7 linked regions of the Homo sapiens genome follow. The protein of the gene in region 5 interacts with the protein of the main gene of each other region in a pairwise test. Each region holds a gene or a part of one and is shown on either strand. Other genes may lie near its edges.

The links.
Region 1: the proteins of SLC35A1 (region 5) and F2RL1 interact in a two-hybrid assay, tested with the Homo sapiens proteins (one large-scale study listed by BioGRID and IntAct).
Region 2: the proteins of SLC35A1 (region 5) and ASZ1 interact in binary tests that used the Homo sapiens proteins (3 or more experiments, as listed by UniProt).
Region 3: the proteins of SLC35A1 (region 5) and SDC3 interact in a two-hybrid assay, tested with the Homo sapiens proteins (one large-scale study listed by BioGRID).
Region 4: the proteins of SLC35A1 (region 5) and CD53 interact in binary tests that used the Homo sapiens proteins (3 or more experiments, as listed by UniProt).
Region 6: the proteins of SLC35A1 (region 5) and EBAG9 interact in binary tests that used the Homo sapiens proteins (3 or more experiments, as listed by UniProt).
Region 7: the proteins of SLC35A1 (region 5) and MGST3 interact in binary tests that used the Homo sapiens proteins (3 or more experiments, as listed by UniProt).

What each region holds. Positions count from the first base shown.
Region 1 is NC_000005.10:76,825,530-76,829,029, reverse strand, and holds part of F2RL1 (proteinase-activated receptor 2 preproprotein), read right to left. Parts: intron 1-3,500. UniProt on the Homo sapiens protein: Receptor for trypsin and trypsin-like enzymes coupled to G proteins.
Region 2 is NC_000007.14:117,375,494-117,378,993, forward strand, and holds part of ASZ1 (ankyrin repeat, SAM and basic leucine zipper domain-containing protein 1), read right to left. Parts: intron 1-3,500. UniProt on the Homo sapiens protein: Plays a central role during spermatogenesis by repressing transposable elements and preventing their mobilization, which is essential for the germline integrity.
Region 3 is NC_000001.11:30,877,759-30,881,258, forward strand, and holds part of SDC3 (syndecan-3), read right to left. Parts: intron 2,333-3,500; exon of another isoform or gene 1,183-2,332; coding exon of another isoform or gene 1,171-1,182; intron 983-1,170; coding exon 865-982; intron 1-864. UniProt on the Homo sapiens protein: Cell surface proteoglycan that may bear heparan sulfate. May have a role in the organization of cell shape by affecting the actin cytoskeleton, possibly by transferring signals from the cell surface in a sugar-dependent mechanism.
Region 4 is NC_000001.11:110,890,148-110,893,647, reverse strand, and holds part of CD53 (leukocyte surface antigen CD53), read right to left. Parts: intron 2,257-3,500; 5' UTR 2,240-2,256; coding exon 2,177-2,239; intron 1,304-2,176; coding exon 1,115-1,303; intron 1-1,114. UniProt on the Homo sapiens protein: Structural component of specialized membrane microdomains known as tetraspanin-enriched microdomains (TERMs), which act as platforms for receptor clustering and signaling.
Region 5 is NC_000006.12:87,500,474-87,503,973, reverse strand, and holds part of SLC35A1 (CMP-sialic acid transporter), read right to left. Parts: intron 3,467-3,500; coding exon 3,307-3,466; intron 2,817-3,306; coding exon 2,664-2,816; intron 1-2,663. UniProt on the Homo sapiens protein: Transports CMP-sialic acid from the cytosol into the Golgi apparatus, functioning as an antiporter that exchanges CMP-sialic acid for CMP. Binds both CMP-sialic acid and free CMP, but has higher affinity for free CMP.
Region 6 is NC_000008.11:109,546,673-109,550,172, forward strand, and holds part of EBAG9 (receptor-binding cancer antigen expressed on SiSo cells), read left to right. Parts: intron 1-3,500. UniProt on the Homo sapiens protein: May participate in suppression of cell proliferation and induces apoptotic cell death through activation of interleukin-1-beta converting enzyme (ICE)-like proteases.
Region 7 is NC_000001.11:165,634,234-165,637,733, reverse strand, and holds part of MGST3 (glutathione S-transferase 3, mitochondrial), read right to left. Parts: intron 1-3,500. UniProt on the Homo sapiens protein: Displays both glutathione S-transferase and glutathione peroxidase activities toward oxyeicosanoids, as part of cellular detoxification as well as synthesis of bioactive metabolites.

The sequences.
Region 1 (3,500 bases), on a different chromosome or scaffold from region 5:
ATTCTCCTGCCTCAGCTTCCCAAGGAGCTGGGATTACAGGTGCACACCACTACATCCAGCTAATTTTTGTATTTTTAGTAGAGATGGGGTTTCACCATGTTGGTCAAGCTGGTCTCGAACTCCTGATCTCAAGTGATCTGCCCACCTGAGCCTCCCAAAGTGCTGGAATTACAGGCATGAGCCACTGCACCCGGCCTAAAATAACATTTATAAGACAATTAGAAATTTGAACACAAAGCCAGGCACGGTTGTTCATGCCTATAATCCCAGTGCTTTGCGAGGCTGACGTGGAAGGATTGCTCGAGGCCAAGAGTTTGAGACCAGCCTGGCCAACATAGCAAGACCGTGTCTCTACAAAAAATTAAAAAAAAAAAAAATTAGCCAGGCATGGTGGCGCACACCTGTAGTCCTGGATACTTGGAAAGTTGAAACAGGAAGATCACTTGAGACCAGGAGTTCAATGATTCAGTGAGATTGTGCCACTGCACTCCACTCTGGGTGACAGAGTGAGGCCCCTGTCTCTATATTAAAAAAAAAAAAAAAAGAAAGAAATTTGAATACTGACTGAATATTTGATTATATTAAAAATTAATGTTAGTAGATACTATAATGGCATTATGTTTATATTTGAAAAAGAAATCCCTCATACTTTATTAATACATTCTAAAATACTTTAGGATGAAATTATATCTGAGATTTATTTCACAACCACAGGAATTGAAACTCTCAGACACTGCTGGTAGGAATACGAACTGGTGCACGGCTGGGCAGAGTAGCTCACACCTCTAATCCCAGCACTATTGGAGGCCGAGGTGGGTGGATCACCTGAGGTCAGGAGTTCGAGACCAGCCTGGCCAACATGGTGAAACCCCATCTCTACTAAAAATACAAAAATTAGTCAGGTGTGGTGGCATACACCTATAATCCCAGCAACTTGGGAGGGTGAGACAGGAGAATCATTTGAACCGGGAGGCACAGGTTGCAATGAGCCAAGATCACGCCATTGCACTCCAGCCTGGGCGACAGAGTGAAACCATGTCTATTTAAAATAAATAAAATAAAATAAAATAAAAGGTACAGTTATTGTGGGAAATTATCTGGCAGTTCCTCAAATGGTTAAAGAGTTCCTATATGGCTGGACGCAGTGGCTCACGCCTGTAATCCCAGCAATTTGGGAGGCTGAGGCAGGCAGATCACGAGGTCGGGGTTTTGAGCCCACCTGGCTAACATGGTGAAACCCCATCTCTATTAAAAATACAAAAATTAGCTGGGTGTGGTGGCACACGCCTATAGTCCCAGCTACTCGGGAAGCTGAGACAGGAGAATCATTTGAACTTGGGAGGCGGAGGTTGCAGTGAGCCTAGACTGTGCCATTGCACTCTGGGCAACAGAGCATGACTCCGTCTCAAAAAAAAAAAAAAAAAAAAAAGTTACTATATGACCCAGTAGCTCCACTCCCAGGTATGCAGGAGTCCACACAAAAACCTGTACACAAATGTTCATAGCAGCATTATTTGTTTTTGTTTTTTTTTTGAGACGGAGTCTCGCTGTCGCCCAGGCTGGAGTGCAGTGGCGCGATCTCGGCTCACCGCAAGCTCCGCCTCCCGGGTTCATGCCATTCTCCTGCCTCAGCCTCCCCAGTAGCTGGGACTACAGGCGCCTGCCACCACGCCTGGCTAATTTTTTTTTTTTTTTTTTTTTTTTGTATTTTTAGTAGAGATGGGGTTTCACAGTGTTAGCCAGGATGGTCTCGATCTCCTGACCTTGTGATCCGCCCACCTCGGCCTCCCAAAGTGCTGGGATTACAGGCGTGAGCCACCACGCCCAGCCATAGCAGCATTATAATATAGCACTGTGCCCAGCCCACAGTCAACAAGTGGGCTGGGCACAGTGGTGCTCACCTGTAATCCTATCACTTTGGGAGGATGAGATGGGAGAAGTGCTTGAGGCCAGGAATTTGAGACAAGCCTGGGCAACAGAGCAGAACCCCATCTCTACAAACATTTTACAAAATTAGCCAGGCATAGTGGTGCACACTTGTAGTCCCACTACTAGGAAGGCTGAGGCAGGAGGACAGCTTGAACCTAGGAGGTCAGAGATTACACCACTGCACTCCAGCCTGGGCAACAGAGCAGGACCCTGTCTCAAAAAAAGGAAAAAAAAGTGGAAACAATCCAAATGTCCATCAACAATTGAAAAGAAATAAAAAGCAGTATATCCATACAATGGAATATTATTTGGCTGTTTTCAAAAATCAAGTACTTGGGAGGCTGAGGCAGGCAGATCACCTGAGGTCAGGAGCTCAAGACCAGCCTGGCCAACATGGTGAAACCCAGTCTCTACTAAAAATACAAAAATTAGCCAGAGGTGGTGGTGTGGGCCCACAGTCCCAACTACTCAGGAGGCTGAGGCAGGAGAATCACTTGAAACTAGAGGCAAAGGTTGCAGAGATTGCACCACTGCACTCCAGCCTGGGTGACAGAGCAAGACTCTGTCTCAAAAAAAAAAAAAAGTACTGATACATAGATACATGGATGAATCTCCAAAAGATTATGCTAAGTGAAAGAAGCCAGTCACAGAGGACAACACATTATCCCATTTCTATCAAATGTCTACAATAGGCAAATCCATAAATAGAAAGTAGATTAGTGTTTGCCAAGGGCTAAGACCAGAAGATTGGTGAATGACAGCTAAACTGTTTCTTCCAGGGTAATAAAAATGTTCTAAAATTGTGGTAATGGTTGAATAATTCTATGAACATCCTAAAAGCCACTAAATTGTACAGTTTAAAGGGGTGAATTGTATGGTGTGCAAATTATCTGATATGGAATTCTTGGTAAAGCTGTTAAAAAAAAAACACAGGCTTGGCATCATAGGAAAGGGAAAAAAACAGAAAAGAAATAACAGGGAAGAGGAGTGGGAGGTGAGTTTGGGAATAGATGAAACAAGATTAGCCAACAGTTAATAATTATTGAAGTTGAGTGGTGGATACACTTAATTCACTATAATAGTATATTTCTATAAGATTAAAATTCTCCATAAAAATAAGCATGTACCAAGTCAGGAAAGCTCACATAAAGAGTGCTCAAAATCTGTTTTAAATAAGAATGCTAAAATAAAGACCAAAAAAGGAGCAAGGAATGGCAATATAACAATTTTTTTTTAAAAAGGAACTTTTTCTTAGAATATTTCAACACATAACCTTTAATGGTCTCCATCAAAACTATTGTTGATATTAACTGTTCTATAACACTGGTAAATGTCAAGATGCTACTCGAAGGTCCCTGAAGCCCTTGCCCAGTGCATTTGCTCTGACTCTGTACAGGGTCCTTACCACTCACCAAAACTCACAGAGCTTGTCTAGAGAACCGATGCTATCCCAGCTCCCAATTGTCAACCAGGTAAAATCATTTCTATTTCACAGAGTTGAGGAGAGACTAAATGCACAAATGAAGTTTAAACACAAATAAAGTGCCTGGCTACAATTACATTCCCATTTC
Region 2 (3,500 bases), on a different chromosome or scaffold from region 5:
CTTATTAAAGTTAACTCTATTAATTTTTGAGAGATTTGCTTCAACCTGCCAAAGCCTTTAAAATCTTAATGCTCTATGTCTCCATCTAGCCACCAGTCACATGTAGCTACCGAACCCTTGAAATCATACAGTGTATATTCTCTGACCACAACAGAATCAAACTGGAAATCGATAACAGAAAAATCTCCAAACATGTGGACATTAAACACCATACACCATGGGTTATTTAGATAATCCATGGGTCAAAGAGGGAGTCTCAAAGAAAATAAAAATATACATAGAAGTGAATGAAAATGATCACACAATGTATCACAATTTGTGGAATGCAACTAAAGCAGTGCTGAGAGGGAAATGTAAAAGACTAAATGTTTACATAAGAAAAAAAGTCTCAAAAATGATCTAGATTTCTGCCTCAAGAATCTAGAAAAAGAGCAAAATAAATTCAAAGTAAGCAGAAGGAATAGTAAGAATAACAGCAGAAATCAATGACACTAAAAGCAAAAACAATAGAGAAAAGTTACTGAAACAAAAGAGCAGGTTCTTTGAAAAAAAATGCATAAACCTCTAGCAAGACTAACAGAGATAAAAAGAGAAAAGACAGAAATCGCCAATATAAAGAATGAAATGGGGTATTATAACAGATCCCACAGCCATCCAAAGAGTAGCTGGAAATACTAGGGGCAACTTTTGGCTTGATAAATTAGAAAAAATGAACCAAGTCCTTGAAAAACCACACATTACCAAAACTCAGCCAAAGCAAAACAGATATAACTTGAATAATCCTATGACCATTAAATAAATCAAATTGTAATTTAAAAGCTTCCCCCACAAAATATCCAGGTCCAGATGGTTTCACTGGAGAAATCTACAGAATGTTTAAAGAAGAGTTAATGTCAATTCTACACAATCTCTTACAGAAAATAAAAGGAGGGGGAATACATCCCAATTCATTTTGTGAGGCCAGTATTGTCCTGATACCAAAACCAGACAAAATACAAAAAGGAAACTTACAGAGCAATATTTATCATGAACTTAGACACAAAATTCTTAGCAAAATACTGGCAAATCAAATCCAATAATGCATAAAAAGAATAATAACCCACAACCACATGGGATTAATCCAGGTATGCAAGGTTGGCTCAATAGTTAAAAATCTAACAAAGTAACCATATCAACAGGCTAAAGAAAAAAGTCATATGGTCGTATCAGTTGGGATAGAAAAAGCATTTGAAAAAATTCCACAACCATTCATGATAAAAACTTTTAGAAAAATGAATAGCGCATAACTTCCCCAATCTCATAATCTACAAAAAAACCTATAGCTAACATCACAGTTAATTAATAGTAAAAAAGTGCATGGTTTTCTCCTGAGATTGGGAAGAAGGCAAGAATGTCCACTATCTACCACTCTTATCCAACATAATACTGAAAGTCTTACCCACTGCCATGAGGGAAAAAAAAGGTATACAAATGTGAAAGGAAAAAATTAACCTCTTTTTGCAGACTACATGATTATCTACATAGAAAATCTCAAACAATCTACAAAAAGCCTCCTAGAACTAATAACTGAGTTCAGTAAGGTGGAAATGTACAGTCGAGACACAAAAATCAATTGCACATGGAAACAAATAAAAAGAGAAATACCATTGGCAATTGTGCCAAATAAAATGAAATACTTAGGTATAAATCTAATGAAATATGCATGAGATCTGTATGATGAAAATGACAAAATGCTGATGAAAGAAAACAAAGGTCAGAAATGGTGGGTCAGGTTTGTCATCCCAGTACTTAGGGAGCCGAGGTGGGAGGATCACTTGAACCTAGGAGTTTGAGACCAACTGTGGCAACAAAGTGGAGACTCTGTCTCTACAAAAAAGTTCAAAAATTAGCCAGGCATGGTGGTGCATGCCCATGGTCTCACCTACTCAGGAGGCTCAGGCGGGAGGATCACCTGAGCCCAGGAATTCGAGGTTGCAGTGAGCCCTCATTGTGCCATTGTTCTCCAACCTGGGTGACAGGGCGAGACCTGGTCTCAAAAAATATATTTTAAAAAAAGAAAACCTAAAACTTTTAGAGATATCTGTGTTTATGAATTAGTAGAATTAACATAGCTAAATGTCAATTATACCTAAATTAATCAATAGGATTCATGGAATTACTACCACAATCTCAGAAAGGTTTTTTGTAGACATAGAAAAGCTTTATCTAAAATGTATATGGAAAGAAAAAGGCTCTAGAAGAGCCAAGATGATTTTGAAAAAGAACAAAATGGGAGGAATCACTCTTCCTGATATTAAGGTTTACCATATAGTTAGAGTAATCAAGACGTGGTACTTTCAGAGGGATAGACACATAAAGAACCCAGAATAGAGAACCCAGATTATACCCACACAAATATGTGCAATTAATTTTTGACATATAATCAAAAGCAATTCAATGGGGGAGGAACAGCCTTTTCAATAAATAGTGCTGGGGCAATTATCTATCCCCAGGTGAAAAAAAAAATGAACCTCAGCCTAAACCTCATAACTTTACAAAAATGAACTCAAAATGTATCATGGACTTAAATGTAAAACTATAAAACTTCTGGGAAAAAAGCACAGGAGAAAATCTTTGAGACCTAATTTCTTAAACTGTTCTTTAACCTGATACTAAAAATATGCCAAAAGTACTGTTCTGTAAAGGGAAAATTTGGTAACTTAGACCTCATCAAAATAAAAGTTTCTGCTCTGTGAAAGACCCCATTAAGAGGATGAAAAGAAAAATTACAGAGTTGGGAAAAATATTTACAAATCACATATCCAACAAAAGATTTCAATGTAGATAACTCCCAAAACTCAACATTAAAAAACAATTAATCCAACATAAAATGGGCAAAAGATACTGTTAGAATTTCACCACAAAAAGTACACATATGGCAAATAAGATATAAAAGGCTGTTTGACATCATTAGCTATTAGTAAGTGCAAATAAAAACACAACAAGCTATTACTGTATACCCATCAGAAATGGCTAAAAAAAATCATGCTAACACCAAATGATTGTGAGGATGGAGAGCAAACTGGATCACTCATAAGCTTGCTAGAAACATAAAACAGTACTGCCATTCTGGAAAACAGTTGGGCAGTTTTAAAATATACTAAATATGCAACCACCGTACAACCTAACAATTGTCCTCTTTGGCATTTATCCCAGAGAAAGAAAATGTATTTTCTAACAGAATCTTGTAGATGAATGTTCATGGCAGTTTTATTTGGAATAGCTAAAAACTAAAATCTACTCAAATGTTCTTCAATGGATAAATGGTTAAACAAACTGTGGTATATACATACCATGGAATACTACTCAGCAATAAAAAGGAATTAACTATTGTACTGATACATGCAACAACTTTGATGAACCTCAAGAAAATTAGGATGATTGAAAAAAGTTAATCTCAAAAGGATATATACTGTATGATTCTATTTATATAATATTCATGAAATAACATCATTAAAAAG
Region 3 (3,500 bases), on a different chromosome or scaffold from region 5:
TCCTGGGCTCGGAACCAGGCAGGAGGGAGGGGAGCCAGGGAACTTTGCGAATAGAGATGTGACCCAATATAAACGGGTTTTACAAAGATTAATTTGAAAGAGGCTCAAAGGACTTGGCTAAGGAGGGGAGACCAGAGGCGAGGGCTGTGGGGAGCCAGCTCTGTGGCGTGCAGACCCCGTACCATCTCCTCAGATGCCAGCCCGTGCCCTCACTGGGCCCAGTCTCAGCTGCCTTCTTTTTGCTACCATTTTGAGAGCTCCTCCTCTGTGCCAGACCCCAGCTTCCTATCCCAAACCCTCCTAGAGGCACTGAGAAGAAGTCGTATTTCTCACCATCCACAGGTGAAAATACAGGGATTCAGGGAGGGGGAGCACCGAGGGGCACACAGTTGCTACATGGCAGAGTGGGGTTCGCGGTGCCCTTCTCTCCCGAGATTCTGCTAGACCCAGCTGACCTGGCTCCCCTTCCCCAGGGCGGGGCCATCCCAGGCACCACTTGAAGCACCTGCCCTGTGTCATCACTGCCCTAACCCCACCATTGGCCACAGCTTATTGCACCTGACGGGACCACCGGAACCAAGCAAGGTCTGCAGAGAAAGCCACATAGCACACACAAAGATGCAGACGTGGGACCCTGGAGACCTGGACATTCTGGGCCCTGAGGTCCTCCCAGGTCTTGTTCTATCCCCAGAAGGATGTTCTGCCCTTCTTGTTCTGGGGATCCAGAGCAAGAAGAACTTGCCTGACCCAGGCAGTGAATGCCCCCTGCCTCACTGAAGCAAGCCCCCCGTGGGCTTCTCAGAGTTGAGGCTGGATACAGACTGGTCACTGCCCCCAGGCAGAGGTAGGGAGGGGGGTACTTACAGCCCGAGCCCGACCCCGAGTAGAGGTCATCCAGTTCATCATCGGGAAAGGAGTCATCATCCCCAGAGCCCTCCAGGTCCACGGGTCTCTCGAAGTTCTCACTGCGCCAGCGCTGGGCCTAGGGAAGGTAGAGGTGGACACAGGGCTCGGCACCCGAGACTGGCAGCCTGGGTGAGCCCAGAAGGGCGACAGGTGCCCTTGTGGGCTGAGTGACATCCACGTGGGTGACAGAGATCTTGTGTGTACCCTGAAGGAAAGTGCGTGTGTGAATAATTCACAGGGCAGGGGTGGGGTGTGGCAAGTCACCTGGGGTCCCATCCCAGAAGGCTTTCAGTGTCTGGCTGATGACTTTCTCTTAGAAACTGGTCATTTTTCATCTTGACTGCACATCTGAATATTGTGAAAACTAAATTCAGTGGTTCAGTAGGTCTGGGGTGGTCTCTGAGCAGCCGCAATGTTGGGCTGGCTGTGGGGAGCCCTGGGGCATGTGTGAGCAGGCGAGGGCTGGAATGGCCCTGCATTTGGGGCCCAGCCTCTCACCCCCTGCCACTGATGGGCCCCCTTCTGGAGTTGATACAGAGCCAGAGTGAGGATCTCAATCCTGTCTTCATATCCCCAGCCTCAACCACCTGCTCCAGAGCCCTGCCCAGCCCAGCCAGGGCAGGGAGCCAGGAGGTGCCCCCTCACAAAATGCACACACACACATAGTCTCAAAGTAATGAATTAATCAGTATTTACTTTCTACCAGTGAGTCATGGAGTGGAACAATTAGTGTAATTTCTCCCGTGACGAATTGCTGGGTCTTCCTCCTTTTTTAAACATTCTAGGAGCTCAGAGCAGTAGGGCCCAACTTTTCCCCAGCTCCCCTCTGCCCAGAAAGAAAAATACCCACGGTGGAGGAGCTAGAACTCCCCATGGCACTCCCCTCCACAACCTGAACCAGCCAACCTGGAGTCCCTGCTCCCTCCAGCTCTCTGGCAAGCAGCCTGAAGTCACACAGAAGAATGGGGACTGAGCAGGGACCCAGGCTCCGGCTCCTGCCCCTGCCCAGGGCTGTCTTCACTGTCTTTCTATCCTTCCCAGTAGGCTGGGCAGTGGCTGGGAGGCCTTTAGCTGGGAGGAGGGATACTAAGAGGTCTGTGGTCCCTGGAAGCCCCCAACTGAAGTAAATGTGGGTGCCAAAACAAGGGAGTCCCCAAGATTCCTCAGTGACCAGTGCCACTTAGCCCCTAACTTCCTGCTCCAAGAAAAGCCTGTACAAACCCAAAGACCTACCCCCATGCCACATAGACCCTTGAAATGACACACCCCAGAGACACAGCACATGCACAGACACACACTGAAACATGCTCACCTAAAAGCAGCCACAGAGGGCTCAGCGTGTCAGCATGCCTGGGGGTAAAAACAGCCACTCACATGGGGCAGGAGGAGCTGGGCCTGCTGTGCAGCTCTGAGCTCAGAGACAAGCATCGAGCCTCCTGGAAACCCATCAGCCTCCACTCAGGTAGCGCTCACCTACATACTATTCATCCCCAGCTCAGTAGCCATCGACATGACAACCGTTACCATGACGACCATCTTCTCCATGCTAACGACCAGGAGCTGCAGCTCCCCACAGAGATGGGGTGGTACAGGAGAGGGAGAGATCACGGGGGAACTGAGAGGATGACAGGGAAGGGGGAGGCAGAGACAGAGACGGTGACAGAGAGTCGAGGACTGAGGGAGGCCAGGGGGCAGAGGGGCAGAGACGGGGAGGGTGGGCTGGGGGTACGAGAGAAGGAGAGAAGGCAAGGGTGGGAGGCAGAGGGGAGAACTCACACATCCTAATTTAGCCTCATGCTGATGAGGCAAGGCTGGGGAAGGGGCCACCTCAGTAATTTTCCAAACCTGCTTCCAAGAGTACATTCTTTCCGAACAGCAAGCATCCCCAATGGCAGGGTGTGCAGGGGGAGGAACGGCCCAGTCACCCCTGAGCCCACCTGGGATGCTCAGCGGGAACTTAATGCGAGGACACCTGGGACCTGCAGGCATGGGCGCTGGGACTCATGAGGCCCTCTCAGGAACACTACAGAGGGGGTGCTGGTAGCTGCAACTCCCAGAGGGGACAGAGAAATAGGGGTTGGGGAACGGAGCCTGGGAGGCAGCAGGGAAAGCCTTAGAAGTCACAGAATGCCTGAGGAGGAGGGTGACAAGCAGGCTTTGACCCCCAAACGACCTCCGCATTTGCATAATCCATCATAATAAGCATAATTATCCATGCCATTCCCTTAAAGGAGAACTGAATCCAAAAGCCCCAGGACGCTGCCAGCTTCTCCTTGACCCTCACTGTGCCCCCTCCAGGTAAACACAACCCCCCCATGCCTGATAGGAGGCTTCCATACCCCCAAGACACGCGCGCACGCATGCACACACACACACACACACACACACACGACAGCCCAACATCCTCATGCATATATATTCTTCTGCATGTACTATGCACCCCAATGGATACACACACACACTATTAAGTGCAATGTTTGCCCACACCAATCTGTATACTCACCACAGCCTATAGGCAATACAGCCCAGCCCACACCAGCACACACTCACCCATCTACTTCACCCCTAGCTGCCTGTACACATGCCCTAGGGTA
Region 4 (3,500 bases), on a different chromosome or scaffold from region 5:
CTCCAGTTTAAGAGTTGACCCATACAGACTGGGCGCAGTGGCTTACGCCTATAATCCCAACACTTTGGGAGGCCGAGGCAGGTGGATCACCTAAAGTCGGGAGTTAGAGACCAGCTTGACCAATATGGAGAAACCCTGTCTCTACTAAAAATTCAGAATTAGCCGGACATGGTGGCGCATGACTGTAATCCCAGCTACTCGGGAGGCTGAGGCAGGAGAATGGCTTGAACCCGGGAGGCGGAGGCTGTGGTGAGCTGAGATCATGCCATTGCACTCCAGCCTGGGCAACAAGAGTGAAACTCCATCTCCAAAACAACAACAAGAAGAAAAAAACAAAACAAAAAACCACCACCAAAATGTTGAACCATAATGGAAAAAAGATTAACCAAATGATTTAAGGAAGAACCAATGTGATTAGAAACCCACGCCTATTGGTAGAGTGGCACTGTTACACCAAGCTCTGTTCTGGGAACACTACAGAAATGTAGAGCTCAGTGCTCTACAGGCACTGTGCTTACAGGCAAAACCTAAGCCTTAAGGTACTCCTCAGGATAGTACCTGATAGGGAACATGCAAAAGGCTGTAGCATCTCTCACATTAGACCTCAATGGCTGCAGCCAGAGCCCTCACCTAAGTTGGATCTCTCTACGGAGTATCTTGTGCAGACATGAGTTAAGGAAGCATCCTTTGGCATTTGGGGAGGAAAGAGCCTAGAAATTATTTTCCATTAGTTAGCGACTCTCAGTCAGAATCTGAAAGTACATAATAATAGCTAGCATGAGGAGGATTTTGGAAGATGGATGACACCTGATTTCATCCAGACATAAAGAAAAAATAAAATGCTATAAAGGGGAATTACAATAATGACAAAAGTCATTATTAGCAATATAAAAATGGCTACAAGGGGGATAGCAATGCCCTCTTTCACCTGTCCGTGGGACCCTAGTCATACATAATATACTATTGGTCTGGGCAGACTTGGCTGATCTGAGGTACCAATCTCATTTTCCTATGATCTTTCTGTGCCTATAAGTGATCTACCAAGAAACATCTTGCCTGGGATTTAGGCACCATCTCCCCGACTTGGGGCACCACATCTGCTGTAAGGACTCACCGACATAAGCAGACACTTGTTTTCCTTGATAGAGCCCATGCAGCCCAGGAAGGCAACTACCATGATAATAGAGCCCACGATGACAAACACATTGCCCAGCGTGAGGGAGGGGAGGTTATGGAAGAGCACTCCGAAGTTGTTGTGGATCAGCAGGTAGATCCCAAAGCCCAAAATGCAGCAGCCACAGATCTGAAAGGAAGAATCCCACAACATCCTGAAGCAAAATGTGGTTCTTGGGTATCTCCTCATATTCTCACTTCCTTGAGATCAGAATCACTTTATTTTTAACTGGCTCAATCAAGAGTCTCATGAACAATTTCTTTACCAAACTTTTCCATGCTTACATTGGAGAGGCAATCTCAGCTTTCTCATGTGGAGACCTACTCACAACTCTTCCTACCCATCTCCAGATACCAAGGAAAGATCACTTCTGTGAGCCACACAGTATCTTCACCATATATAGGTCTAACTTCTTTTTCCTTATCTTTTCAGTCGCTCACACATGGCTTTCTCTGTAGAAACCATGACCATGTAGAGAAGATGCCCTGCTTGAGGAAGCTCATCTTGCTAGGCAGAAAACTAGAGAAGCCAAACTTATAATAATCTTCTCATATACACAAGTACCAACCCATCCTATATCTGAAATTCAATTGCTGAATTTTATACAGTGAAACCTCCCTGGAAAGGGTGACTTTCCTTTCAATCACTTATTGTTTCAAGGAATCTAGAAAAAAAGACAAGAAAAACAGAGGCACTCAATATCCAGAGCACAGTCTCAGGTTTCTCACCTATATATGTTAGCTACGAGTAGTAGTAAACTAAAGCCCTCAGAGAGAAACAGCACCTCCATTAATAACTGCACTGGTACCTTTCAATTTTGCAGGTTTATTCTGTGGCAGGAAGAGGGGAAAAATTATTACTCTTTTGTTTCTAGGATGGTTGTGCTGGACATGACCCAAACACGCATGCATTTTACCCCACACCAGCCTCTTCAGTAGAGGAATGAGGAGAGCTTAGCTGGGTAAAGGTGAGCTAAACCGTGCTCAGAAGAGATACACTTACCCAAAAGAGCAAGTTGAAGAAAAACAGGACATACTTCAGCAGTTTCAAGCTACTCATGCCCATGCCGTGATATTCTTGCCCTAAGGAATAAGGAAGAAGAAAGTAAGTTACCTCACTCTGTAAGGTAGCCAGAGATCAGAGTGCACAAATGTTCAGGGATCTCTAGCATTACCTTGGGTTTGAGCTGTGGCTCTCCTCTGGAAAGTTTCCCCAAACTCTGCGCTTTCCTAGTTCTAAACTGAAATACCAACTGGCTCATCTTAGACATTCAGTTTTTGCCCAATTCGGCAAGCCAACAATGCTTAACATTGAATTAAGTATTGTAGAAGAAAATAGAGCCATTCTTAGAAGAGGATGAGTCACAGTGACAGAGACCAGGCCAGTGCTTTAGCTCTAACTGCAGCATTAGCAACTAGTGCCTGGGCACTTAAGCCCTTGAAGTCAGGGATGGACTGGTCAATCAGCCATCAAGAAAGCCAACAGCTTGATCAGCCAGTTTCTTAAATACTCTGTGATTTATGTACATGCTACATTTGATCAGTAAACTTCTCCACATGAAAGTAGGGGGAACATATCCACGCCTCATTTATTCTTTTATTGCAGAAACATTTATGTTTTCTGTTCTAGATGTTGTGGAAGATGCAACCATGACTAAGCAGTAGCTATCCTCCAGAAGACAACAGTCTTACAGCAAAGATAAAACAAGCCAACAAATATGCAATGGGGAAGTAAAAAGAGATAGCAATGTAAGCTTTATTTTTTTCAACTAGAATATCATTTTCTTAGTGAGGACATCAATGTCCAATGTCTGGTTCTCAATTCTAGAAATCCAGATACAGAATTTTGACTTTTCCTTTTCGCTTTCCTTTCCTTTCTCTTTCTCTTTCTCTCTTTCTTTCTTTCTTCTTTCAGGGTCTCAATCTGTCACCCAGGCTGGAGTGCAGTGGCACAATCTCAATTCACTGCAACCTTCACCTCCCAGGCTCAAGTGATCCTCCCACCTCAGCCTCCCAGGTAGCTGAGACTAAAGGCATGCACCATCATGCCCGGATAATTTTTGTATTTTTAGTAGAAACGAAGTTTCACCATGTTGCCTAGTCTGGCCTCAAACTTCTGACCTCAGGTGATCCGCCTGCCTCGGCCTCCCAAAGTGCTGGGATTACAGGCATGAGCTACCGCACCTGGCCAGAATTTTGAATTTTCTGTCAGAGGTAATGATATTCTATAAAGTGACTCATTTTTAAAACCGTGCACAGGACTGATATATCAAGCAGAATGTTGGGGCAGTGATTTTTTTCCATTAAAATTATGCCTTTTCCAGTGC
Region 5 (3,500 bases):
TATTTAGTGCATTATAAATGATTGCAGCTGTTATTGTTACATTGATTACCAGCAAAATGTTAGAACAGATTTAGAGATGACTTGTACTTAAAAAGCTTAATGGTCATCAGTGGAAAATAGTGTGACTTCACCAAGTGTGAAACATACCAGATTTCCTTACTGAAAGGACTCCTAATGTTAAGTGATGAGGGGAATTCCATAGAGATAATGTTTGGCAAAAAATGTGACAGACTTGCATATTATTGTTATTATTATTATTATTGAAACAGAGTCTCGCACTATCACTCGAGCTGGTGTGCAGTGGCGCGATCTCGGCTCACTGCAACCTCTGCCTCCCAGGTTCAAGCGATTCTCCTGCCTCAGCCTCCTGAGTAGCTAGGATTACAGGCGCCTGCCACCACGCCCAGCTAAGTTTTTGTATTTTTAGTACAGACGGGGTTTCACCATGTTAGCCAGGCTGGTCTCGAACTCCTCACCTGGTGATCTGCGACCAGCCACATAATATTTTTATAGACAACACAGAACTGTAGTGAGGATAAAGGTACAATCCGTAAGTGTGTGAATGCTCATACAGAAAAATGGTAGTTAATTGAACAAAATCAAGCTAGGCCATCAACCAATACCAACTTGCCAGGCATATAGATAAGCCACGTTAGAAACAGATCCTCCAGCCGTAGTCAAGTCTTCAGTTGACTGCAGCCCTAGCCAGTATCTTGACTGCAACCTCAAGCCAGAACCAGCTAGCTAAGGCACCCTCAAATTCCTGACCCATAAAAACTATGAGAGATGATATGTTCAGTAAGCAAGAAAAAGATCAAGCTAGAGAGAATTCTAAAGGTACAGCCACAGAACTCTGGTCCTGTTCTACCTAAAATTTTCATTAAAGACCCAGAAGGCATATTTTTTTTGACTCTGGAAAGCGTAATACCCAAAGGAGAAGCTAATAATGGGTAAGAACTGGAAATAACTCAAGGGGCTGAGCAATGACCCAAAGCTAACAAGAAGAGCTTAATAAATACAAACTCAACCTGCATTCTGGTTTAGAATAAGCCAGAGTTTGAGTTCTAGTGTCAATGAGAGTCTATTCCAGTCCTGACACTTGGAACCCACTTAACCAGTAGTGGAGGAGTGCATGGCAGTGCAGACAGATTGAGGGAACAGTGGGGTGAGAGGGATACAAGATACATTTGAGACAAACTATTTGGGTGACACAGTTACATGTAGTGGTTTATGATCAATTGTAAAATAGATACTTTGCCTGCCCCCCAGAAATTAACAGTCATGTACCACATAATGACATTTCAGTCCATGATGAACCACATATAAAACAGCGGTCCTGTAAGATAAAACTATATTTGTGCCTTTTCTATGTTTAGGTACGCTAAACTTACCACTGTGTTACAACTCGCTACAGTATTCAGCACAGTAACATGCTGCAGAAGTTTGTAGCCTAGGAACAATAGGCTATATACTGTACAGCCTAGATGTGTAGTAAGTAGTCTATACCATCTAGATTTGTGTAAGTATACTCCATGATGTTTGCACAACAGTGAAATCACCTAATGATGCATCTCTCAGAACCCTGAACTTACATTCTTTGTTAAGCGATGCATGACTGTATAACAAGTCTCCGGTATTCAGAACAAAGGGGTAATTACCAAACTGTGCCTCGTATTACTTAGACAACATTGGGAGACAGTGGGGTTTTAGGATATATTGAGAAATAATGACAGATGAATGCATCTAGGAGAAAAATATAAGGAAAAGTGTAGGGGCAGAAGGCAGGGATCAGGAAGTCTGTCTAGAAACCATATTATAGAAAGAAACAGTAGGGTTTTAATTGGGGAAGGAGGGGACCTGGAGGGTGGGGATATGATACTGTTCACAAGCACTGTACATCCCAGCCGCCTTCCATTCCTAAGAGAACCATAGTCTGTTTGCTAAAAGTTAGAGTAAATATTCAACTGTAGGAAACTCCTGACCTTCACAAAACTATTCACTGGCATCCCATTTCCTGTTTCTCTTTGGGGAAATAACTGATTGAGGCATACAATGTAAGAAAAAAAATCATGTATGTATCTTAGCGTTAACTCTTTAAAAATCTGTTATGTACCTTCACATTAACTCTTAAAAACTAAAGATAATTATCAATTATCAGTAAGAACACTCCTTCCCTTGTCATCCTGATCACTGACAGTAGGGAGATGTGCCAGAGACTGACAGTTGAGAGAGAAGATGAAAACTAGATGCAGAAAAACCTTGCCCAGTGTTTCTGAGATGTTTGAAAGAGGTCTAGAAGTTCTAAACATATACAGTATGGAAACTGGCACAGTTGTGGTCACAAGTTAGCTATTAACTAATTTAGGACAAGTTCCTTCACCTCTTTGGGGACTGTCATCCATAAAATGGAGGGGATGGAACACATTATTTCTAAGGTATGTTCCATCTGTAACATATTTTATGCATATTCTCCTCTGAGAAACAACCAATAAGTATTATTATCCCTAATAATATGCTAAAGAAAAAAGGCCTATCTATAAGGCAAAAGTTATTTTAAATCAAAGAAATGTAGTCATGCTGCATGCATCAATGTAACTGAACAGTATAAGACTTAAGGAAGTTTTCTATTTATGGGAAGTTATGGTGTGCATTTTGTTTCTTACCACCACTTTTGTAGCTTGGGCTGGTTTCCACTGTACAAGCGTAACTCCAGCACACAGCATAAAAACTGAAACCCACTGTAATTTGCTGAGTGTCCGGTTTAACATTAAAACAGTGCATAAAGCAGTACACGGAATCTTCAACTGGTAGGTCACCTAAAAAAAAGAGAATGAATTAATAAATTCAGTTAATGTTAGTCTCTGATACAAATATATTATTTCTGGTATCATTGATAAAATTATCAATAAAAAATATTTGATAATGGCCGGGCACGGTGGCTCACACCTGTAATCCCAGAACTTTGGGAGGCCGAGGCGGGTGGTGGATCACGAGGTCTGGAGATCAAGACCATCATGGCCAACATAGTGAAACCTCATCTCTACTAAAAATACAAAAAATTAGCTGGGTGTGGTGGCATGTGCCTATAGTCCCAGCTACGCGGGAGGCTGAGGCAGGAGAATCGCTTGAACCTGGGCGGCGGAGATTGCAGTGAGCTGAGATCACGTCACTGCACTCCAGCCTAGACGAAAGAGCGAGACTCCATCTCAAAAAAAAAAAAAAAATTGATAATATGATAAAGAGTTAATAAAAACTCTTTTTACCATAAAAGATTCTGTGCTTTTCATTATCATTAACTCCACTTACCTGGTACACTGCTGCATCCAGATTGCTAAGAGCTAGGAAAGCCATGTTGTTCTGAACAGCATACACTAACGATGGCACACTTAACTTCAACAGTTCCTTGGGGCTCCCCAAGACATTTTCTCTTAAAGATGCTTTGAATCTACCCAGACTACCAGTTTCTCTTTGAAAACAAAAGGGGGAGATGAGAGGGTGGT
Region 6 (3,500 bases), on a different chromosome or scaffold from region 5:
ATTTTATGTGTGGCCCAAGATAATTCTTTTTCCAGTGTGGCCCAGGGAAGCCAAAAGATTGGACACCCCTGTTCTAGAGCTTAAAAAATACTATATATGGAATCATACAGTGTATATTTTTTTGGTGGTCTGACTCTTTTCATTCAGTATAATTATTCTGAGATATAGTCATGCTATTACTTGTAACAATAGTTCATTCCTTTTTATTGCTGAGTAGTAAGTAGTCTGTTGTATTTATATACTACAATTTGTTTGTCCACTCACCTGTTGATATACATTTGTGTTGTTTCCAGTTTGGAGCTATTAAATAAAAATAAAGCTGCAATTCAAATACAAGTCTTTTATTTATTTATTTATTTCAATTTTTTTTTTGAGACGGAGTCCTGCTCTGTCACCAGGCTGAAGTGCAGTAGCTCAATCTCAGCTCACTGCAACCTCCGCATCCTGCATTCAAGCTATTCTCCTGCCTCAGCCTTCAAATACAAGTCTTTATATGGCTATATACTTTTCTTTATCTTGGGTAGATTACTAGGAGTAGAATGGCTGGGTCATATGGTAGATGTTTGTTAAACTTTGTAAGAAACTACCAAATTGTTTTTCAAAGTGGTTGTACATTTTACTTTCCCACCACCAAAGTGTGAGCGTGCCAGTTGTTCCAAATCCTCACCAGTACTTGCTATGGTCATTATGTTTAGTTTGAATCATCCCAGTAGGTATGTAATAATTTCTCACTGTGGCTTTAATTTGCATTTTTCTAATGATTAAAGATGTTGACTATCATTTAATCTACTTATTTACCATTGTATATGTTCTTTTTTTTTTTTTCGAGATGGAGTCTCACTCTGTTGCCCAGGCTGGAGTGCAGTGGCGTGATCTCGGCTTACTTCAAGCTCTGCCTTTCAGGTTCACGCCATTCTCCTGCCTCAGCCTCCTGAGTAGCTGGGACTACAGGTGCCCGCGACCATGCCCGGCTAATTTTTTGTATTTTTAGTAGAGACAGGGTTTCACCGTGTTGGCCAGGATGGTCTTGATCTCCTGACCTCGTGATCCGCCCGCCTCGGCCTCCCAAAGTGCTGGGATTACAGGTGTGAGCCACCACGCCTGGCCTTGTATATGTTTTTTGATGAAATGTCTAGTTAGACCTTTTGCTCGTTTTTAAATTGAGTTTTTAAAAATTATTTTTGAATTTTGAGAGGTTCTTATATATTCTGGGTTTAAGTCCCTTATTAGACATATGCTTTGCAAGGATTTTTCTCTCAGTCTGTGATTTGTCTTTTCATTCCATTAATAGTGTTTTTGAATTGTAGTTTTTAATTTTGATAAAATCCAATTTACTAATCTTTTATTTTATGGATTGTGCTTTTGTTGTACTACCTAAAAATCTTTGCCTAACCCAGGGTCACAAAGTTGTGTTGTTTTTTTTTCTTGCAAATTTTGTAGTTTCAGACTACATTTAGGTCTATAATCTATTTTTAATTACTTTTAACTGGTGCCAGATATATATAGAAGGTTTTTGTTTTGATTTTTTCCATATGGATATGGATATCCAGTTTAACCAGCACTTTTTTTTTCTTAATAACTATTCTTTTCTCTCTGAATTACCTTTGCATCTTTATCAGATTTCAGTTTTTGTATATACGTGGGTCTATTCCTTTACTTTCCATTGATCTATTCGTGTATTTTGATTCCAATACTACACAGTTTTGATTACTGAAGCTTTATAACAAGTCTTGAAACCAGATAGTGCTAGCTGTTTTACCTTGTTCTTTTTCAATGTTGTTTTGGCTGTTATATACGTTCTTTGCATTTCCATATGAACTTTAGAAATTAGCTTGTCAAGTTTTAAAGAAAAAACCTGCCCAGATTTTGGTTGAGATTGCCTGGAATCTATAACTCATTTTGGGAAATGTTGATATCTTAATAAAAATATTCTGTCTCTGAAAAAGTCTTTTTAAATTAATAGGCCTTTTAACTGTCTCAGCAATATTTGATAGTTTTCAGTAGTCAAGTCCTTAATTAGATTTGTCCTCAAGTATCATTTTTTTATGCCTATATAAATTTTTTTAACGTTTCAATTTCTTATTGATTGTTGTTAACGTATAGAAATACAATTAATGGTAGATCCCGTTGAATTTTCCACATAGAATATCACACTTTTATTTCTGCCTTTCCATTCTGGATGCCTTTTATTTCTTTTCTATTTTTTTCTTTTTTCTTTTTTTTTTTTTTTTTGCTGGATTGCATTGGCCAGAACTTCCACTACGATGTTGACTAAAAGTAGAAAAAGCAGACATGCTTGTGTTGTTCATGATCTTAGGGAGAAATTATCAAATTTTTTTACCATTAAGTCTCATATTACTGTAGGTTTTTCATAGATGTTTTTGATCAGGTTGAGAAAGTTCCCTTATACTTTGCTGCAATTTTTTTTTTTAACAGGAATGGATGTTGAGTTTTGTCAAAGGCTTTTTCTGTCTCTATTGAGATGTTTATATGGTTTTTTGTTTTTAGTTTGCTAATATAGTGAATGACATTTGATTTTTAAATGTTAAACCAATCCAACATTTCCAAACTAAGCACCAGTTTTTCACAATGTAGTATCCATTTATATATTGTTGGATTTAATTTACTAATATTTGGCTAAGGAGATTTGTGTCTAGATTCATAGAATATTAATAGTTTTCTTTTCTAGTAATATCTTTGGATTAGTATCAGTGTAATACTGGCCTCAAATAATGAGTTGGGGAAATATTCCTTCTTCAGTTTTTTGGCAGTTTGTATAGAATTGGTATTATTCCTTCCTAAGTGTTTTGTAGAATTTACCAGTGAAGCCATCTGTGTCTGGGAGATTTTTATAACTACAAATATAATTTCTTTAATAGATATATAGATTTTCAGGTTGTTCTTCTTATGCTTTAGTAATTTGTGTCTTTCAGGGAAGTTGTCCATTTCATCTCACTTGTCAAGTAAATACAGGCACAAAGGTGTTTGTAATAGTTCTTCAGTATCCTTTTAATATCTGCAGACTCTAACAATGTTATCTGTCTTGTTTATGATATTGGCAAAAGTCTGTTATTAAGGACACGTGTTTTAGATTGTTATGTACTTTTTATTAATTGACCCCTTTATCACTGTGAAATGACCACTTTTATACCTGGTAATGTTATTTTTCCTATAATCTGTCTAACATTGAAATAGTCACTTCACCTTTCTTTTGATTAGTGCTAGCATAGTATATTTTCTCCTATCCTTTTACTTTTAACCTATTTGTGTCTTTTTATTTAAAATGCATTTCTCATTGGCAACATGGAGTGGGGCGGTCTTTCTTTCTTATTCAATCTAACAATCTCTGCTTTTCAATTGGAATGCTATACAATTTGCATTTAATGAGATTATTGATATGGTTAGATTTACGTCTGTCATCTTATTTGTTTTTGGCTTGTCCCATGTGTTATTTGTTCTCTTTTCTTTGTTTCCTGCTGCCTTTTCAATTGAGTAGTTTT
Region 7 (3,500 bases), on a different chromosome or scaffold from region 5:
AGGTACTTAACCTCTAGAAATTTTACTGACAGAGTTTCCTGGGAACACAGCTATTCAAATACCAAAATGTTGCTCAACCTTTCCTCTAATTCTTGCTTCTGCCACCATTTGACGTATCTTACTGGGGCAGGGTTCCTTTGGTTGCAAGGCTTACCCAGAAAGCTTCCTGAACTACATCCAATAGAACACTCCTGGGGTAAAGGTCTCCTTCACTACTTCCCAAATTCCTCTTGGCTGCCCATCAGAAATTCCCCAGCACACAATCAGCATTCCACAAACAAAGCAAAAGGCAGGCTTTATGGATTTGGGTACCTGCCTCAAATAATTTACCACTTCTGAGCCATGAAGTGACACTACCTTTTATTTTACTAAATGACAATGAGATTCTTAAGGGAGAGAAGATTATGTCTTTCAGCTCTCTCTCTTTGCTCCCAAATAAATAAAATCCAGCTTTGACAAAAGTAGTCCCTACTTCTGTGTATGATATTGCTCTCCTCAAATTGTACTGCAATTTCTCAACTGCTCTTTTTTTTCTTTTTAATGTGTCCAGGGATGGGACAATGACAAAGCATTCACAGATTAACTTGAAGCCATTCTCCAATGTTTCATTAAAATCCTTATTCGGCTGCCTGTGCTATTCCAATCTTCCTTACATGGCAAAAATCAATATTTTAATGAGAGTAACACACAAGGATAGTCACATAAAGGGCTAGTCTGATCATACCAAAAGGACTTCCCTGAGTCCCAAACACCAGACGGTAGCTTAGAACACTCTGAGGTGGTGCTGAGGGTCCACTTGGCTCACTTAAAGCTCCCCTGGATAGTTGTACAGCCTAACTTCTGCATCCAGATGTTTCCACGAAGGAACAAGCCTCAAAACCATCTCCAGCCAGGGCAGCTGACCCTCCATACAATGCTCAGCGGAGCTCACACAATGCTCAATGGAGAAATTAAAGAGCCTAGAGGGAAGTAACATAAAAACAATTTTTTTTTTTTTTGAGACGGAGTCTCACTGTGTTGCCAGGGTGGAGTGCAGTGGTGCCATCTCAGCTCACTGCAACCTCTGCCTCCCAGGTTCAAGTGATTCTTCTGCCTCAGCCTCCTAAGTAGCTGGGACTACAGGTGTGTGCTACCACGCCCCGGTTAATTTTTGTATTTTTAGTAGAGATGGGTTTTTACCATGTTGATCAGACTGGTCTCGAACTCCTGACCTCAGGTGATCCACCCACCTTGGCTTCCCAAAGTGCTGGGGTTACAGGCATGAGCCACCGTGCCTGGCCCATAAACGCAATCCTCTTGCTCATTACACAATGTATATACGTACTAAAACATCACACTGTATCTCATAAATATATCCAATATTATATATCTATTAGAAACAAAGTAAAACTTAAGCTGGGTGCAGTAGTGCACACCTGTAATCCCTGCTACTTGGGAGGCTGAGGTGGGAGGACTGCTTCAGCCTAGGAGTTTGAGTCTAGCCTGGGCAACATGGTGAAACCCCACCTCAAAATGACAACACACACACCCACACACAAAAACTTTAAAAATGTAATTATCTGTTTCTATGATAGGACAGAAAAGGAGAGTCATGGGATTTCTTTGGGTTCAGACTACATTTTCAGAATGCTAGTTCCAGTCCACTTCTACATTAAACAGATGCTAAAATCTGTTTGAGCGCCAAACCTTCATGACAGCCAGATTTAAATTACACTTAAAAGAAGGAACAGAAACCTAGGTAATGAAAAGTAACTATCCCCCGACAATTGCATTGCATATTCAGTAGATTGTTCCCTAAGGGCTAAAAACAAAAAGTTGAATAGAAATCATATTATTTATCCAGCACTTGATTACTGGTTCAAGTAAGGCAAATAGCAGCAAGCAGGTCCTAGAGTGGGTCTTTCACAGTACCTCACAGTCCATAGTCTTCAATATTCATCAATGTTGCTGGTGGAATATTTGGAGAGTGGAAGCTAACTATATGTTAGGAGGATGGAAGATCTGTCCCTTTAAGAGATAAATATGTTATAATCCAAATATATTCAACTGTATAGTTAAATAGCCATAGTTTGGCCATATAAAATATTCAAGTTTTAGATGTCGTTTTTATTCCAACACTTTGGTAAACTGTTGGTACTGAAAACAATTGCTTAATACATGGCTGCACTGGCTGGGAGTGGGGGAGGGAAGATCAGCAGGATGCTCAAGTTCCAGTGAATGGTTCTTGGTTATAGAGCACAAGCTTGCACTCACACGAACTCTGTTGAAACTCTGTTAAAGCCAAATAAGCAAATTACCTGCTTTCTTCTTCTCTGGAGTGTGCCTTCTGTGTAATAAGGCACTAAACACACATGCCTGATGAAATCTCCTCTGAGAAAAAACTGGTAATTCTGTTCTTCAGGAATCTAAGAATACTAGATTTATAACAAGACAGAATAAATTCCAGGTTCCCCTGCAGGTATAAGGACAAACTTTCCCAGATTCTTGACACAGAAGGTTCTGTGGGAGATACCTAACCTAGAAGCCCTGGGCTTTGCTAGACCCTTTGGAGCTGAGCTTCCCAAGAGATGTGATCCCAGGGACAACCCACTGGATGTTTCCCATGGTCTGCAGGCAGCAACCTCAGAGGGCGGGGTGGAGGGGGAGGGGAATGGTGAGAAGCCATGGGATACAGAAGGAAAAATAAAGACAACATCTCATAATGCATTAAATGAAGCTGATATGATAAATTCAATGTCGGACAAAGCATTTTACCTAAATGGGATGCTTGCCTCAAGTCCATAGCTATCATCTTCAGTATTTTCTCAGAATGATTCCTTCCCTTATTCATCCTTTACTAAATGCCATGTTCCACTCAAGGGGCAGGGCTACTATGAGAATGATCAAGAATGAGAAGGAAGGTCCTGACTCTCTAGAATACACAGTTGAGAGTGGGGGGGAGGGAGGGAGGGAGAGGGAGGGAGAGAGAGGGAGGGAGGGAGAGAGAGAGAGAGCGCATGATTGAGAGAGAGCACGAGTGAGCATGCAGTCAGGGAAGACAAAAACACAGCAGGACCATACCATAAAACATAAGGGTGACATTGCGACAAAGGATCTGAAGAGCATAAAGTGATATGTGAGAGAGAACACAGGTAAAGAAAACAGCAAGAGCAGAGACTTGGAGACAGAAAAAGGCTTGACTTGTATGAAGGAGAGAAAAGAGTCCAGTGTGTCTGAAGGGTAGTGATATAGACTAGAGGAAGAAAAGTAGGAGAAATCAATTATTATTACTTATTACCACCGTGCACAGTATTTAGTAAGGGGCAAACCTTGTTCTAAGCAGTTAGTTCATCAGTATTAACTCATTTAGATCCTCACAGCATCCCTATGATATTACTCCCATTTTGCAGATGAAGAAACGCAGTACCAGAAAGGTTAAGTGACCTGCCCAAGGTCACACAGCGATCACAGAGCACAGCCAGATCCCCACACCCCCAAGCAGTCTGGCTCCAGTTTGTGCT